Regions from separate parts of the Homo sapiens genome. Here region 2 is linked to region 1. The links come from fine-mapping of genetic effects on gene expression. Tissue or cell type: whole blood. Region 1 holds a variant in brackets; the other region holds the start of a gene. All regions are shown on one strand. Distances are from middle to middle.

The links. PIP is the estimated chance that this variant, and not a neighbour inherited with it, causes the effect.
Region 2: it holds the start of WNT7A, and the variant in region 1 is fine-mapped to the expression of WNT7A in whole blood (INTERVAL, PIP above 0.99).

Annotation. Positions count from the first base shown.
Region 1 is chr3:13,766,432-13,774,531 of GRCh38, reverse strand. No RefSeq gene overlaps it. Among named protein-coding and RNA genes, the nearest start is that of WNT7A, 110 kb to the left of the region's middle. RefSeq lists an enhancer at 703-1,203. The variant T/C (reference allele first, on the strand shown) is at 4,205.
Region 2 is chr3:13,875,194-13,883,289 of GRCh38, reverse strand. It overlaps WNT7A (Wnt family member 7A), which reads left to right and starts at 3,219. Exons shown (of 4, transcript NM_004625.4): 1 at 3,219-3,544. The coding sequence starts at 3,474. RefSeq lists enhancers at 3,241-3,742, 4,245-4,746.

The DNA of each region.
Region 1 (8,100 bases):
GCATGTCTGTGTTACCAGCTATTTGGGAGGCTGAGGTAGAAGGATCACTTGAGCCTAGGAGGTATAGGTCACCGTGAGCCCAGATCGCACCCTTGCTAAACACTTACAGGCACCTCACTTGTTGGGCAATCCCACACCCACTGGTGGTCAGCCCCAGCCAGGCAATAGGACAGGCACTCAGCCACGGGTCCCTCAACCCAAGTAGGAACCATAAAACTGCACAGCTGCAAATACACCCACCCACTCATCCCACACACATGTTCATCTCTCTCTTTCTCTTTCTCTCTTTCTCTCTCTCTCTCTCTCTCTCACACACACACACACACACACACACACACACCCTATCTGGGCTCAGACCAAATATAGATACTCATACCCACCCAGTCATACACAAATAGCCCTCACACCTTCACCCCTGCGCACTCACAGCTCTCTCCCTCACTGCCACTGACTCAGCACCTCCCCGTGGTGCTAAGCACACACCGTGTACACATCCCACCCCACACACAGTCTCCCCACCTCTTCCAGTAGCTGCCCAGTTGAGCCACACACTCACAGTCCAGCACTGCCACACACCCAAACCAAATGCACCGACAACCCCACAGCACAGACACATACCATCATGCTGTGGTGCATGCGCACCCACAGTCGGCCCCCACTAAAGATCAACCCCCGCCCTCCTCCAAGACACACTCAGATGCGCAGGCACACGCTGCCCTGACACACACACTGAGCACACTCAGATGCACACCCACCTGCTCAGATATGTCCCATCTAAATTCACTCACACATCCAGTTCCGCTCAGCCACTGCAGTGTGCAGCCACTACACTGCACACACACACGTGCACACACGTGTGCACACTCACGCTCTCCCAGCCACAGCAGCACAGGGCTTCCGTTGCCTCCAATGGACTCTCACCTTTCCCAGATGATCTGCAGGCCCCAGAGCAGCTGGGCATCCTCTCCCGATGGCAGGCAAACTCCAGTGCCAGGTGCCTGGACAGGTGGCCATGAGGGGCAGTGACCTCCTAGTGCCCCCAGCAACCCCTGCTGCTTGTGTCCCAGGCCCTGCTCAACCCTCTCCCAATTTTTGGAACCACATAAAATATTAAGATAAAAATAATTCCCAGGAGGCAGATCCTTTGGTAATTATGTGCAGGTGTGGAATCACTCCTGGCTCCCTGGCTGCCCACCACCCTACCTCCCATGTATGGGGGGTGATCATTCCAAAGCCAGCCACCCATTAATCCCTGTAACGGGCCAGGCCTGCCCGCCTGCCCGCCCGCCTGGCAGCCCACACTCAAAACCCAGCTCCCCAGGAAAGCAGGGGAGCGCGCCCAGCAATCCCATGGGGCCAGGCCTGGCGCCATTTGCAAGGGCCTCACGCTCACCCTGCGAGGGAAGCTCTGTGATTCATACCCACCTCCCAGAGCAGGAAACTGAGGCTGTGAGCAGGGCTATGACATGCCCAAAGTCACAGGTAATCTGGGGGCACCCCACCCCCTGGTCCTGCAGAATGCGGCTTCTTCCCCGTCTGCATCTCCCAGCAGAAAGAGCAGAGACAGGCAGGGAGTCACCGGAGGAGGAACCAGGCTGGAGATAGGCTTCAAGGAGCAGCTGGAGAATTCATCATGGTCCCCAGTCCCTGTAGGGCTGTTTTACATCTCTGTCCCCAAGGACAGAGTCCTGGCCTGGGAAGGGGCAGGGTCACAGGAAGACAAACTCAACTTGCCCTGTGGAGAGCAGCTATCCCCATCCTGAGCCGCTGTGAAGAAGCAACTGCCTCGTGCTGGGAGGTGTGCAAGCTGGGGCTGGCCAGCCATCCTCTGCGGGGACTATCTTAGCTGGATTGGTGGCTGGCTGACCTTCCAGCACCCCTGCAGCAGGGATACCCAGGGTCCCTTGTTCTCCTCATCACTCCAGGTGGCCCCATTCTGAGTACCCTGGGAGCAGCAGCCACCATGCCCGCCATGACCACAGAGTCTATGGAAGGCCACATCCACTCGGGAGCAGCCAGGCCCCCGACAAGCCCTCCTGCCAGCTTCCACCACTACCCAGGGTCCCCAGCTCCCAGCCTCATCGTCCTCCTTGCTGCCCCAAACACCCCTACACCTTTGCCTGGCTCTTCTCCCCCTGGGCTGCCCTGCCCTGCCCTGCAGACACCCATGCAGCCTTCTCACCAGTGGGAACACGTCTGCCCCTGGGAATCAGTCCTTCTTCTATCAACCCCAGCAGTGGCCACCCCTGCCCTGGAAGCCAACAGTGCCCCTCTGACACCCTCCCATCATCCGTCTCACTTCACTGGAGCTATCTGACATCCCTCTCAAGGACCCCCCGTGCCATGTCCACTTGTGTGTCCCCAAGCCCCTCTGGCCCCCGCCCCCACCCTGAGGCTTGGAGACTTCCTGCCCAAGCCAGTCTCAGCTCCTGCATTCGCACCACCTCCATAGGAATGGTGAAGACAGTGGGCTCATTCTGGAGGCGATTCCTTTCATCCGCTGTCCAGCTCTGGTGCTGGTCAGGAAAGGGCTGTGCCCAGCTCCCCTGCCCGCTGGAGCTCCCAAGACAGCCTCATGGAGGACACCCCATTTTGAACCTTTAGGCAGAAAACAAGACCCTCATAGGACAGACAGGGAAACTGAGGCTCCTGCCGCCCATAGGCAGAGGCAGTGTCTGGACCCGAGATCAGTTCTCATCTCCCTGTAGTACTCTGGCCACCCACCGTGGGCTCACCCCTCCCTTCCTCCCCGCCTTCCCTCAAGGTTAAGCACTTGAGCACAATGCGGGCACAGGGCACCCCTTCATTCATTCATAATCTCTACATGTGTGGGGTACAGCAGCCACAAAACGGGCACAAATCCCTGCCCTCACAGAGCTGGTGTTTTCCTGGGGAGGGTGGATAATAAACAGATGAACAAGTAAACCCGCGATGTGGCAGACGGGTGAGGGCCAGGAAGAAAACCAGGTCAGGTGATGGTGCCCCAGTGTGTGAGGCACCTGTGTAATTCTACACTTTCTCATAGCTGCTTGGACAAAAGCAAGAAGAAACGGATGGAACTAATATTAACAATATAGGTGATTTAACCTATTAGGTCCAAATATTATCATGTCAACATGCCATCAATGCAAAAAATGATTAATAAGTTATTTTGTCGTTTTCATGCCATGTCTGTGAAATCAGTGCATACTGGACATTATGCACACCTGGACTGTCACTGGGCACATTTCAGGTACTCAAGACTACACATTGCTTGTGGCTGCTGTATTGGACAGTGCATGTCTAGGGGACTGCGGAGCAGCTAGGGGTGTTTCTCATACAAGGGTGGTCGGAGAAGGCCTCTCGGAGGAAGTGATTTCTGATCAGGGCCCTGGAAACAAAGCAATAAACCAGGCAGCTGAATGGGGAAGACTTACCCCAGGCAGAAGAAACAGCAGGGGCAAAGGCCCTGAGGCAGGCTCAGGGCAGCAGCTGGAGCAGAGTGAGCAGGAGGGAGACTGGAGGAGACCTGGCTCAGTCAGGGCTGTGGCCTCTGTGAGAATTCCACTTTTCCTCTCAGCAGGCGGGAGCTATGCAGGGTGTTAGGCAGACAGCTTGGCCCCAGCCTGGCTCAGGTTTGAAGAAAGCACAGGGCATCACTGCACAAGCTTTAGCCCCAGATGGCCAGGTGTGAAGTTCACTGCACAGTGCCAGGCACGTGGTGGGCATCCTCTAAAAGCAAAAGTTAGCCCACGCTCCATGAGTCTGATTCTTCAGGTAACACACATCCCAGGTGCCAAGGCTCTGGGCTTCTCTACTTCTTGAAAAAAGGGGTTGGGGGGATCTCTTGGCCTCCCACCCTCCAAGCTTTTCTGACTTTGGCCTATTTCCACATTCCTGGAATTGCTGCAGGTGATAAATGGCTCTGCAGCCAGGCTGTCCTCAGGCATTCTGACATGCAGCCTCCACTTCCTCTGCCCTATGGTGGGAGGGGGCTGGGCAGGGCCTCTGACCCCACCAGGAAGCTGCAGCACCCTATCCTGGCCTCAGGGCTCCCCACCCCCACCCCATCGTGCAGGGACAACCCAGCCTCTGATTCCTGACTCCTGAGCATAGGGCCATGGGCAAGGCCTTCTCCCCTCTGGTCTGCATATTCTCTGCTCTGTACAGAACCCACGGCCTCATTCATCCAATAAATACTTAGTGAGTGCCTGTTCCTAGCCCA[T/C]ACTGCTGTAGCTATGGGGATTAAAGAATGGACGAGACAGACAGAGGCGCCTGCCCTGTGGAATGGGCCTTCCAGGTTGTAGAGGTCACTTAGCGACCCCCTAGTCCTCATTTCATGGGATACTCAGAACCCCTGGTCTCTCTGACCGCATGTCAGGGAAGACCCTCTTCTTGCCCACCCTGCAACCCAGAATGGCATCTTCTCAGGGCTTCCCCACTCTGGAGGGAAAACCCCATACGAGAGTTTTAGGCTAGAAGCAAGAAGGACTCACTGATCACCTGGGGAACAAACCCTGAAATAGGAAAGGAAAATGCATTTTAAAAATATGCATTACTAGAAAAAAAGAAAAGAAAAGGTGTACTGGCCAGATCCCATCTGTTAATAGCAGCTAACTCTTGGGGAAGGCTGCAGGATTCTGAGTCTTTGCTGGTCTTTTACTGTCCTATTTTCCAGGTTTTCTGCTATGCATATATATCTACTGTATACTCAAGGGTTTAACCAAGAAAGACAATAAAATGTGATAAAACAATCCCAGTTTTAAAAACTAGCACCCCTTGAACCTCCTGGCATAAGTGCGTCTGGCTGGCAGGACCAGAAACTCACGAGACGGTGCCACTGCTCAGACTGACCCTAACCCGGGAAGCTGGGAGATTGGGATTGGACGCCAGAGCAGGGCCTGTGGAAAGGGAGAAAAGGCAGGACAGCCCTGTGAGGGAGGCAAGGGCACAGCCAGCCGTGAAGGGTGAGGTCAGCGGAGGGCATGGGGGTCAGGAGCCCCAGGCCCTGCACTGGTCCTGTAGGCACTGGGAAGTCACTGAAGGCATGTGAGCAGGAGAGGGTGGTGGTCTAGAAGGAACAGCAAGGCCTCTCCCAAGTTCCTCTTCCATTCTCCTTTACGGCATTGCAGCCACACTTCTTCAGAAGTCCTCAGCCTTCTCTGAAAGGGGCTCTCGGGCCCAACAGCCCAGGTTCAAATCCTAAGTTTACACTTCCTAGCTGCGTGTGGTGTCCTCAGCCTGTGAAAATACCAACCTTGTGGTTGGCTGAGAGCCTTAGGTGAGTTAAAACATGAAAAGCACTGGAAACAGGGCCTGGCATACAGTAAGTGCTTAATAAATGCTGGTCACTGTTATTCCCTCCCCATAGCATCAGCAGGTTTTAATCTCTTGTATCACTTTGAAAGTTTCCCTAAGGCAAAGACCGGCTCAGACTGGGTCTGTCACCAGGTAGGTGCCGAGAATTATTTGTCAGACAAAGCAGTAAGCAGCCATCTTGCCTTCCCTCCAGAGACAGAGTCCAAGGCCCCCTCCTCTCTTTATCTGAGGTGCCTTGCACAGGCCAAGCCCATGGCTGCTGGGAACCAATACCTGGGGGTCCCGTGAAGATAGGGCCACGACTCCACTCAGCTCTTTCTCTATCTCTCTTGTCTCCTCCGGAACTCTGTGAGGGAGGCGACTCTTATCTCCACCTTACAGAAGAGGAAACTGAGGCTCAAAGGCGTGAAGGGCCTGCTCTAGACGAAGCCCACCAACCCAGTCCTTCTGTCAAGGGTCCCCTGCAGTGCCTTGTGCAGGCCTGGCACCTACTGGGCACTGTAATACATCTTCCAAGGCAAAGGAGACTCGGCTGGAGAGGGCGGAGCCCGGGTGGGGGTAGGGGTGGAGAAAAGAGAAGCCCTCTGGTTTTCCAGGTAATGAAGCCGGCCAGGAACACCAGGTGAGGAGCAGCAGAGATAGCAGGGGCGCCTCTGGCCTTTCATCTGGAGCCCACGGCCCGGCCTTCCTCCCCAACTCCTCAGTGGGGGGCCCCATGAGCGCTCACCTGGAGCTATAAACGGGCTGGTTCTGAGGCCCACCTGTGCCTGGCAGGTTTGCCAAGACCAGAGAGCAGGAGGGTCCCAAGAAGGAAGCGTCGCTCACCTCCGGCTCCCCATGCCAAACTTCTGAAGCCCTAAAAAGCTCCCAGACCTTCCCTCTGCCAAACCTCACCTGCCTGCCTGTCAGCCACCCCCTCCCCCAGCCCAGCTGGGGTTGGAAGCCTGGAAGCCTGGCTGGGTATCTGTTAACCAGAGACCAGACCCCTCCAAGCCTCAGTTTCCACCTTGGGAAAGGGCAGGGAGAGCATTCCAGGGTATGTCAAGGAGACAACTCCAGTCTGGGGGTGTTAATGCCAAGGGTCCACCCTGAGGTCTGGCCAGGCCTTCCCAGCTGTGGGGAGGAAGCTGGCATCCTCACGCCCAGGGCTGTCAGCTGCTCTGCGGTTCTGAGCTGGAGTGGAGTGCAGCAGGCAGGCTGGCTGGGTGGTCCCTAGGGAGGCAGCCGGGAAACCAGGCCCTGACAGCAGGCTCAGCCTTGACCTGGGGCTGTGTGGATGCTGTCGGCTCCATCCCAAGACAATGACAGGAGGCTGGGAGCTCTGTTTATTGAGCACCTGTTGTATGCCAGAAGCATTAGAGAGGCCAGGCCCCAGGCAGGGGTCAGGAGGCTGGGAATTCTAACCCAGATCTGAAGCTCTGGATCCCAGCAGCAACTGGGAATCAGTTTTCCGCAGGTGGGGCCCACCCAGAGAGGGCACCAATGCAGCTTTCCTTGTGCCTTTTTTCACCGTGCACCAGAGAGCTGAGATTCAGAAGATGGATTTTCTAGAAAAACAGGTATGGAGTGGAATGATGGGTGCGTACCCTGCCCTAGCATAGGGGAGCGATGAGCCTCACCTCACGATAATAGTTGGCCCATGCGAGTATTTTCTTTCCTTTCCTTTCTTTTCTTTTCTTTTTTTCTTTTTCTTTTTTCTTTTTTTTTTTGTCTTCAAAGTGACTTGCAGAACCCAGGCTAATTAATTTTCCCCAGAGCAGTGAGGGCCATCACCTGTCTCCTACCCCAGTGTCCCACCCCAGCCCCCAAGCACATCTGAGGGAAGGAGATAGCAGAGAGGATAATTCAGCTGGCAGAAGCCTGGGGGAGGAATGAGGGTGGGACTGGCCCCCAGGAGGCAGCCCGAGGTGCAGGGGGAGAAGCGGGATTAGAGGAAGCAGGAGGGCTGGGCGCAGGCAGGCCTCCACCCGCCCATCAGCAGCAGGCACCTGGCCCACCTTTGCAGAGTCGCCTCCACCACTGGAACATCCATTGTGCCAGCACCACCTCTGGACTGTGCTCTGCTCAGGGGAGAGACCATCCTGGCCTCTGCCCTAGGTCTGGCAGCTGAAAACATTTGCTCATTCATTCACTCACTTACCTTGCTCATTTAGCTAACCAACAAAAATGGTTAGCCCCTGGTCTGAGCCCCCCGGGCCTTGCATTAGGAACAGGGGGTACAAACAACAATGAAACCCAGTCTCTAGCTCTGGGGAGGGCCCAGTCTATAGCAGGATAGACCATCAGTCAACAGGAATGAGCAGTGGGGCAGAAGGAAGCACAAATGAGAGATGGAGCAGAGGCCCGGAGGCTTGGAGCCTCAGAGGAGTTTCACAGAAGAGGCAACACCTGGGCTTTGAGGGGTAAGTAGGAGTTTGCCAGGAAGATATGAGCAGATAGGGAGGGCATTTAGGTAGAGAAGACAGCAAGTACAAAAACATGGAGTTAGATAGGGTCTGAGGTGTCTGGGAAGCAAGAGGAGTGGAGGGAGTGAAGATGGGGACGGGTTGTCCATGGTGGGGCATGCAACTCTTGGGGCCTCAAGCAGTGCTTCCCAGCTTTCACCCCATCCTACCATGGTGTGCAGAGAGATGGTGGCATGCATTGGCTCGTCTCATCATTGGTGGGAAATAGAAGGCACTGAGGCCACTCGGCCCCCTCCAGCTACCTGGAGTCAGCTCGGTACAGATGCTCCATGGTTTACAATAAACCCAGCACAAATCAAAAATAAACCTCACCTACCAAACATGGTAGCTTAGCGAG
Region 2 (8,096 bases), 110 kb before region 1:
ATGATGGCTGTGATAATGATATCAACAAGTGGAGTACCTACCCCTTGGCATTTTCAGGGGATTCAGTGAGTTGATATGCTGAGGCTGTAAATGACAGTGCCTGGCATGTAATAGTGCTACCTATGTGTTTGATCATGAAATCGGTCCTCAGATGGGTTGCTCCAGGAGGGGCAGAGACTGGATTTATTTGATATACTGATCTGTCTTGGCCATATTCTTCCCTGCTGTGTTCCTCCTCTTCTTCCTCCTCCTCCTCTCTCATCTTCCGATGTACCCAGCACCTGCATGGGCTATTGGTATGTGCCTAGCACCTGGCCTGACATCCGGTCACAAGTACACCCCAGCATTCATGACATGAGTGAAACTTTGGTCTAGGAATGATGGTGAATGCAGAAAATAAAGGTCATATTTGGAGATTCTTTGGAGGTAGACTGCTCAGGGCTTGTGCTGACTTCATCTGAGGGTGGAAGAGGAGGAAGAGGAGGAGGAACAATGCAGGAGGGAAGAACATGGTCAGGACAGACCTTGTGATTTCCTTTACCAAACTCTTAGCTCCTCCAACCATCTCCAGATCATTACAAGCCACCTCCATTCACCCAAATACTCCAGCCAACATCGGGGTCACCTATCATTCCTCTTTCTCTTTCTCTACCCACCCCCACCGAATCCTTTCAAGTCCTGTCTGTGCAAGACACAGGCCCCGTATCCTGGGTCCTTTTCTCCTCTCTGCACCCCACTTCTACCCTTATTGTCCTAGTTACAACTGCTGTGTAACAAGCATCCCCTCCAAACTTAGTGGCAAAATAATCATTATATTCACAAGTTATAGGGCTCAGGAAGTTGGGCAGGGTACACTGGGGATACTACACGGCCACTGTCCACCATGCTTTAGCTTGGCAGACACAAAGCCAGCATGACATAATGGTGGAGGTACCTTCACCCACATTTCTGGCACCTGGGCAAGGTGACTCCAGTGCTGAACTCACCTGGGACTGTGGGCTGGAGCAAGCACAGGTGGCCTCTGCCTATGCCTGGGCTTCCTCACAGCATGGTGGCCTCTAGGCCTCTTCCATGGTGGCTCAGGGCCCCAGCACTGGTGCGCCAGCCAACAAAACAAAGACTGCATTGTCTTTTATCGCGAAGACTTGTAATTTTTGAGCATCACTTCTGCTACATCTTATTGGTGGAAGCCATCACAAGCCCACCCAGATTCACGCAGGCAGAGCACAGAGAACCCACTTCTTCATGGGAGGAGTGTCAAATAATTTTGTGGTCATGTTCTAAGAGCACCACCCTAACCCAAACTACCAATGTCTCACCTGGACCCCTACTGTCATCTCCTCTCTGGTCTGCTTGATGGCGCACTTTACTCACCTGTCCCCATTCCCACAGTGTGTTCCCTTAGGACAGCCACGGGGAGCTTTTGAACACACAAATCAGATCAGTCACCCCCTTCTTCATCCCTCCAATGTCCCCAGCTGAACACACCACTGAAATCCAAGCTCCTTGACGTGCCCACACAGCTTTGTGGATCTGTGTATCCCCATCTCCCTTCAAGCTCAGGCCTTCTCTCTCTCTCTATTGCAGCCCACCATCTCCTCCCTGGGGCTCATGCCCACCTCTGAGCTTTTGCACCTGCTGGTCCCCTTCCTGCAGTGCTGGACCCCTGATGCTGTGTCCTTCAGGCCTCACCTCAAATGCCACCTCCTCAGATCTAAAATTAACCCTCCAACACCCAGTATTCCCTCTCCCATCACCCTGCTTAATGGTCTACTATCTGCAACTCTGTTCTTGTTCACTTATCATCTGTCTCCTTCCTGGCCCCAAGAAGAAAGACTGTTGCCTTTCTTCTTCCTTGTGTCCACGGTGCCCACTATCGTGGTTGGCACAGAATATGGAATATGAATGAATACCTGAATGGTGGCTTTCGGGTGTGTGTGTGTGTGTGTGTGTGTGTAATTTAGAAAGGCAATCTTGAAGGATAGTCAGGACTGGGTGCAGGAGGTTACTACAGTTGGGCATACTTTGTTTCCCATATGGTTGTGCCACTCGCTAGCTGGTGACTCTGGGCAAACACCTTCACCTCCTTGAGCCTCAGTGTCTTCAGCTGAAACCTGAGTTCAGATTTGCCAGACCTGGGCATAGGGACAGCAGGTCCAGCAGGAACACCAAGCCAGGACCACAGCCACTCCCAGGGAGCTCAGTCCCTGGAGCCCGAGAGGAACACTCTCCGGAGGCGCAGGCGCAGCCGCTCCTAGAGACTGGGCAACCCCCAGGTGGCAGGCGGGACCGGTCCGTGCAAACAGGGAACAGGTACCCGGAGGATGGACATTCGCTGGCAAAAACATAAACTGCCGCTCGGAGTCTTGGCACCACCCAATTTCCAGGGACGGTTAGACTCCCCCTAGCTCACTGGATGAGGTGTACACCAAAGAAGGGTGTTAGCCCCCTCGGGTCGGCCAGGGCACTCAAAGCATTCTGTTCCCGGGAGCGAGGCCGAGGTGCACCACCCGCCGCGTCCGCCTGGTGACGCCGCGAGCGCGCTCTGAGCGGCCAGCTGCGCCCCTCACGCTCCCGCGGCTCAGGCGCCCCACTGCTGTTCCGCGCGGGGCAACTGGGCCTCAGCCCGACTCAGTCTGTCGGCTAACAGCAGGATCCCAGAGGAGGCTGCCCAACCTGGGCACCCCCTGCCGCCACTCTCGAATAGGTGGGAGTAGGGAAGAAATACACTGAGCCAGTCAGCCCGTCGCTCCGCGAAAGGGGGCGCCCTCCCCTGAAGCTGGGGTTGGGGAACTGGGGTGTGCCCTGTCAGCCCCAGCTCCCTGTTCCGGGCTGGAGGGAGCAGGGCAGCAGACCAAGGCACTAGGCCTCTCGGCCGAGTCTGGTCCACTCCACCCGAGGGCAGCCTCTGGACGCCCACTCGCCCTGCAATCTGCAAGTTAGTGACGGGTGGGGGGCGAGCGGGCTCCTACCGCCTCCAACCGGGCTGTGCTCCCCAGCCTGCCACCTGCACCCCGGAGCAGGGAGGGGGCCCCCGGGAGCGCGCATGGAAAGGCGCGAGCGCGCGCCTTGTGCAGGCGGCCCTGTCCCGCGGGCGCAGGGGCGCTGGGCGGGCGCTCCGGGGAGGCGGGCGGGGGAGGGGGCGGGGGAGGGACGGGGGAAAGGAGGGAGGGGCGGGGGCTGGAGGCAGCAGCGCCCCCGCACTCCCCGCGTCTCGCACACTTGCACCGGTCGCTCGCGCGCAGCCCGGCGTCGCCCCACGCCGCGCTCGCTCCTCCCTCCCTCCTCCCGCTCCGTGGCTCCCGTGCTCCTGGCGAGGCTCAGGCGCGGAGCGCGCGGACGGGCGCACCGACAGACGGCCCCGGGGACGCCTCGGCTCGCGCCTCCCGGGCGGGCTATGTTGATTGCCCCGCCGGGGCCGGCCCGCGGGATCAGCACAGCCCGGCCCGCGGCCCCGGCGGCCAATCGGGACTATGAACCGGAAAGCGCGGCGCTGCCTGGGCCACCTCTTTCTCAGCCTGGGCATGGTCTACCTCCGGATCGGGTAAGGGCTGCCTGCGCCCTTTCCGCGCGTGTTTCGACAAAGTTGGCACGGCCCGGGGAGGGAGGTGTGCCGCCTGCGAGCCTCTGCCGGCCAACTTCCACAGCTTCTCTGAGAGGCCGGGTGGGTGCGGTGTGGGAGCGGTGGACGCACAAAGGCCCCCCGCAGGACACCCCAGGAGATATAGGCAGGGGGACTGGCCATCCTGAGGACGTCTGAGTCTGGAATCCCCCAGGACCAGAGACAGCCGGTAGGGACGCTCCAGCCTGAGGGACTCTGGGGGAGGGCTAGCTGCTGCAAAGGTTCAGCCCATCCCGGGGACCCTTCGGACCCGGGCATAGGGACAGCAGGTCTAGCAGGAACATCAAGCCAGGACCACAGCCAATCTCGGGGAGCTCAGTCCCCGGAGCCCGAGACGAACTCTCTCAGGAGGCGCGGCACAGCCGTTCCTAGAGACTGGGCAGTCCCCAGGTGGCTGGCGGGGCCGGTCCGTGCAAACAGGGAACAGGTACCCAGGAGGAAGGACATTCGCTGGCAAAAACATAAACCGCCGCTCGGAGCCTTGGCACCACCCAATTTCCAGGGGCCCTTAGACTCCCAGAGCCCCTTCCCGGGCCAAGGGGACAGCACGTCCCACCCCCAACAAACACACACAAAGGTGGGACGAGAGGCGGTCTGAGACACAGAGGGAGACAAGCGCTAGAGAGAGGCGGGACACCCCGCCCCCTGGAACTGGGCAGCAGAGGCGGCCGGGCGCGCGAGCAGCCCTCCGGCTTCACCTAGCGTTTCTGTGGAGGTGGGGCTCGGGGGCGCTCTGGCTGGAAGGTGGGAGGGGGCAGCTCGGGACGCGTCCTGGAGCTGCTTGTGCAAAGCCGGTCACCCTTTGTACTTAAGACAACGCGTGTGAGGCTCGGAGCGGTGTGGGGGCGGGGGGATCTGGGCATGGATAGAGGTTCTGGCGCTGAAGGGCCCGCTTGGTAGGTCTCACACACCCTGCCCCTCCAGCCCCCAGCAGTGAACCCATTACCATCCCTTTTGAGGAGGGGTGGACCGCAGGGGCTGCGGCGAGGGGATGTGCGTGGCAGACCCTTTGTGTTTTGTCACTACTACCCCCCTACCCCGTCACTTCCCCAGTCCACGTCTCTGGAGCGGGGATTTCGCAAGTTGTCCGGCCGCGGCCGCTAGCAGGTGCGTGCAGAGCCGACCAGGGGCCGCCAGCCCGACCAGCGGCGGAGAGGCGGCTGCGGGGCTCGCGCCAGTACCGCCAGCCTGCCGGTGTGTTTTAAGTGTTATTGATTCGCCCGCGTCTGGGTGGCTTTCCTTTTTTTCCCCTGCTTTAATCTTCATCTTGGCCCGCGCCCCGCCGCCCCGCGCACATTCAGCATCCAGGAAGCCAGTAGGGCCGATTGGCTCGAGCCGATTGACTCGGGCCGCGTGCGGCTTTATCTCCTTTTTAATTAGAAACGGGGAGGAGGGACACGGGTGGCGGGGGAGACAGAAAGGGAAAACAGCAGAAAATAACCTCCCCTGGCCGCCCCGCCCGCCCGCGGGCCGCCCTCCCGCCGGCGCCGCGGCCTCCCCGGATTGGCCCTGCGGGGGCCCAGCTGCCCGGCAGGGAGGGAGGGAGGGAGTCCTGCAGGGCGCTGGCTTTCCGCCCCAAGCTGCCCTCTGGGGTAGGGAGAGGTCCAGGTCGGAGAGGTGGGAGTTGCAGGTGACTTCGGGCCAGGCCCTGCTGCTCCCTGCGCCTCGGGCTACTCATCTGTATAGTGGACATGAGGGGTGAAGTCTCAACGTCCCTAAAAGGTTTTTCCATTTCCCCAGACGTGACGGCTCTACCCGCTTCTGGCTGATGGTGGGGCATCTGCGGTATTCTTATTTTGCTCGGATAGTTCAGGTGACTCCGCACTAGCCTATTGCAACAATCAGATCCGATAACGATAATGATAATTACAACACCACCACCACATTTATGGGGCACTCACTATGTGCCTGGCACCTTCTAAGCACTTTCCATGTTCTAGCACATTTGATTTTCACAGCAGCCAATGAGGTGGGGACTAGTTATCAATACCCTAATTTAGCCATGGAGAAACTGAAGTGCAGAGGGAAGGAAACTTGCCTAAGATCGCACAACTAATAAGTGAAGGAAGCTTGGATGAGAACCTAGGCCAGACCCTTAGGGGCTAGTCTATTGCACCTATGAATTTTTGGCCCCAGTATGCCAACCTATCCACTCTCAGCTGGTGTAGAAATTTCCTGGTGGCCAGCTAGGTGCTCAGAGGGTCCTCCTGACAAATGATGCCAAAACGTCTCCACTTAATCTTCTCATGCTGCTTCTTCCTCAGACATTCCCAGCATTCTAGTGTGTGTTAGACTCGGGTTTAGCGCTGAGATGCCAGTGCAAAGCCAGGCTGTCCCACCTCCAACACCTGCTAGCTGAGAACCTTCCTCCAGGTCCCAACCTCTGTGAGCCTCAATTTTCAAATATGTGAAACGGATGTGATGATTCTTGCCCCACAGGGCTGTGTGGAAAGGTCACATGAGCTGCTGTTTGTGGCAGCACCCACCATACTGCCTTGGCACATAGTAGGGACACTGCCCAAGTTTACTGATGCATTTGATGCATATTTGGGGGGCACCTGCCATGTAATAGGTACTCACCCGGAGCCACATCTTTGAAGTGCCACAATCCATTTATTCAGCAGTCATTTAGTGAACCAGCAGACAGCCTCCCTGCCCTCAGGGAGCTCATCCTCTCAGGAGGAAGACAAGTGATCAAGTGAGCATGCAAATTAAAAACACAGACATGAAAACATTTCAGTAGACCATGAGTAATCAAGAATATCCAGTAAACAAAACAGAGATTGTGATGGGAATTTATTAGGGGTAGGGAGGGGAGGGAGGAGCCCTTAGCTGGGCTGGTCAGGGAGGTGACCCTTGAGGTCATGTGAATAATGGCAAGAAGCCAAGCTTGTGAAGATCAGGGGTGAGAGCGCTTCCAGGGAGAGGAGGAGCAAGGACAGAGTGCCTACTGCAGGGAGAAGGCTGGCACGTGGCAGGAGCCTAGGGAAACGGCAGGAGTGATCAGTTGTGCGCTTGGAGGGCATGGGTCCATGTCACCTCCTTGAGTTATTGGTACAGGAGAACCTCACTCTAACAAATTGCAACTCCAGAAAACTGCCCACAGCTGAGCCCCAGGACGAGGCACTTGTCCAGTGGCTCTACCTGCAGCCCTACCACTGCCACCAAGCCAAGCCACCACCAACCCTAACCTGCCTAGTCCCTCTGCTCCTGCTCTGGCACCCCACAGGTCTTTCCTACATGGAGTGGGGACCACCAGGTCATGTCAGTGTCCTGCTTACACCCTTCAGTGCTTCCTGGTGCTGCCTGATGCACCTGAGAAAATGCCAGCCCTCAGCCATCTCCTCTTCCCAGGATCTCCCTGCATCTCAAGCCCTGGCTTTGTAGCAGTTTCCATGGGTTCTTTCTATTCCTTGAAGACCCCGAACTTGTCTCCTAGAACTTTGCATTTTCTGTTCCCTCTGCATAGAATACCCTTCTCCAGATCTTCCCACAGATGCCTCCTGGCAATTCAGATCTCTGTTCTGTTCTAATGTCAACTCCTCAAGGAAGTCCTCTTGATCACCTCAGCTAAAGTGGCCCTCACTTTCCTCACCACCCCCACACCCCAGTTGCCATCCCAGCATCTTCCTTTACTTTCTTCATAGTACATATCACTGTCGAGATGGCCTGTTTTATTCATTTGTGACATCTGTGTTGTCACCCTCCCTAGTTCCTTGAGGGCAGGGCATTGCCTGTCAGGTGCACAGCTGTCTCCTAGCATGGTACGTGGCACATGATGGGTATCCGATATATATCAGTGAATAGTTGAGGAAGATAGGAATTCTCCTCATAATAGTCGCACACATCCTCTAGGCCAGTCATGCCCGGAGTGGGATACATGTACTCCATTGACAGCAGGAAGAAAATGCCAGGACTTCTACTTACAATTACTTTTTAAGTTTTTTTTCCAACAATAAAACATATACATACATGAGAGTATATGTTACATATACATTAAAAAACAGATTTTTTTAATGAACATCTGTGCACCCATCACTCCTTCAAAGGCACCTGCTGCATGAAACTTTGAAGTCATCATTTCCTTGCTTGCCTTTACAATTTTACCAAAGAGATGATTCCCTAGCAATATAGAGCTTCTTTTGCATGTTTTTGAACTTCATCTCAATTGCATCCTACCATAAACTCAAAGGCAACTTGCCTTTTTTACTCCATGTAATGTTTGTGACATACATCATCTTTTTTTGTTTCTAAAACAAAAATCAAGTGTGTGTATGTTTCACTGATATTGGGTATACGCATTGATTCAAGAGCCTATGTAGAAATTATAGGGTTTCTATTCGAATGGACATGAGTTAGGGGTGCAGGATCAAAAAAGTTGGGAGACCACTGCTGGGGGCAGTGGGGTGGCCAGTGCTGGACACCTACGAAGGGTTCCCAGGCCATGCCCCCTTGCTGGCCTAATGCTCCATCT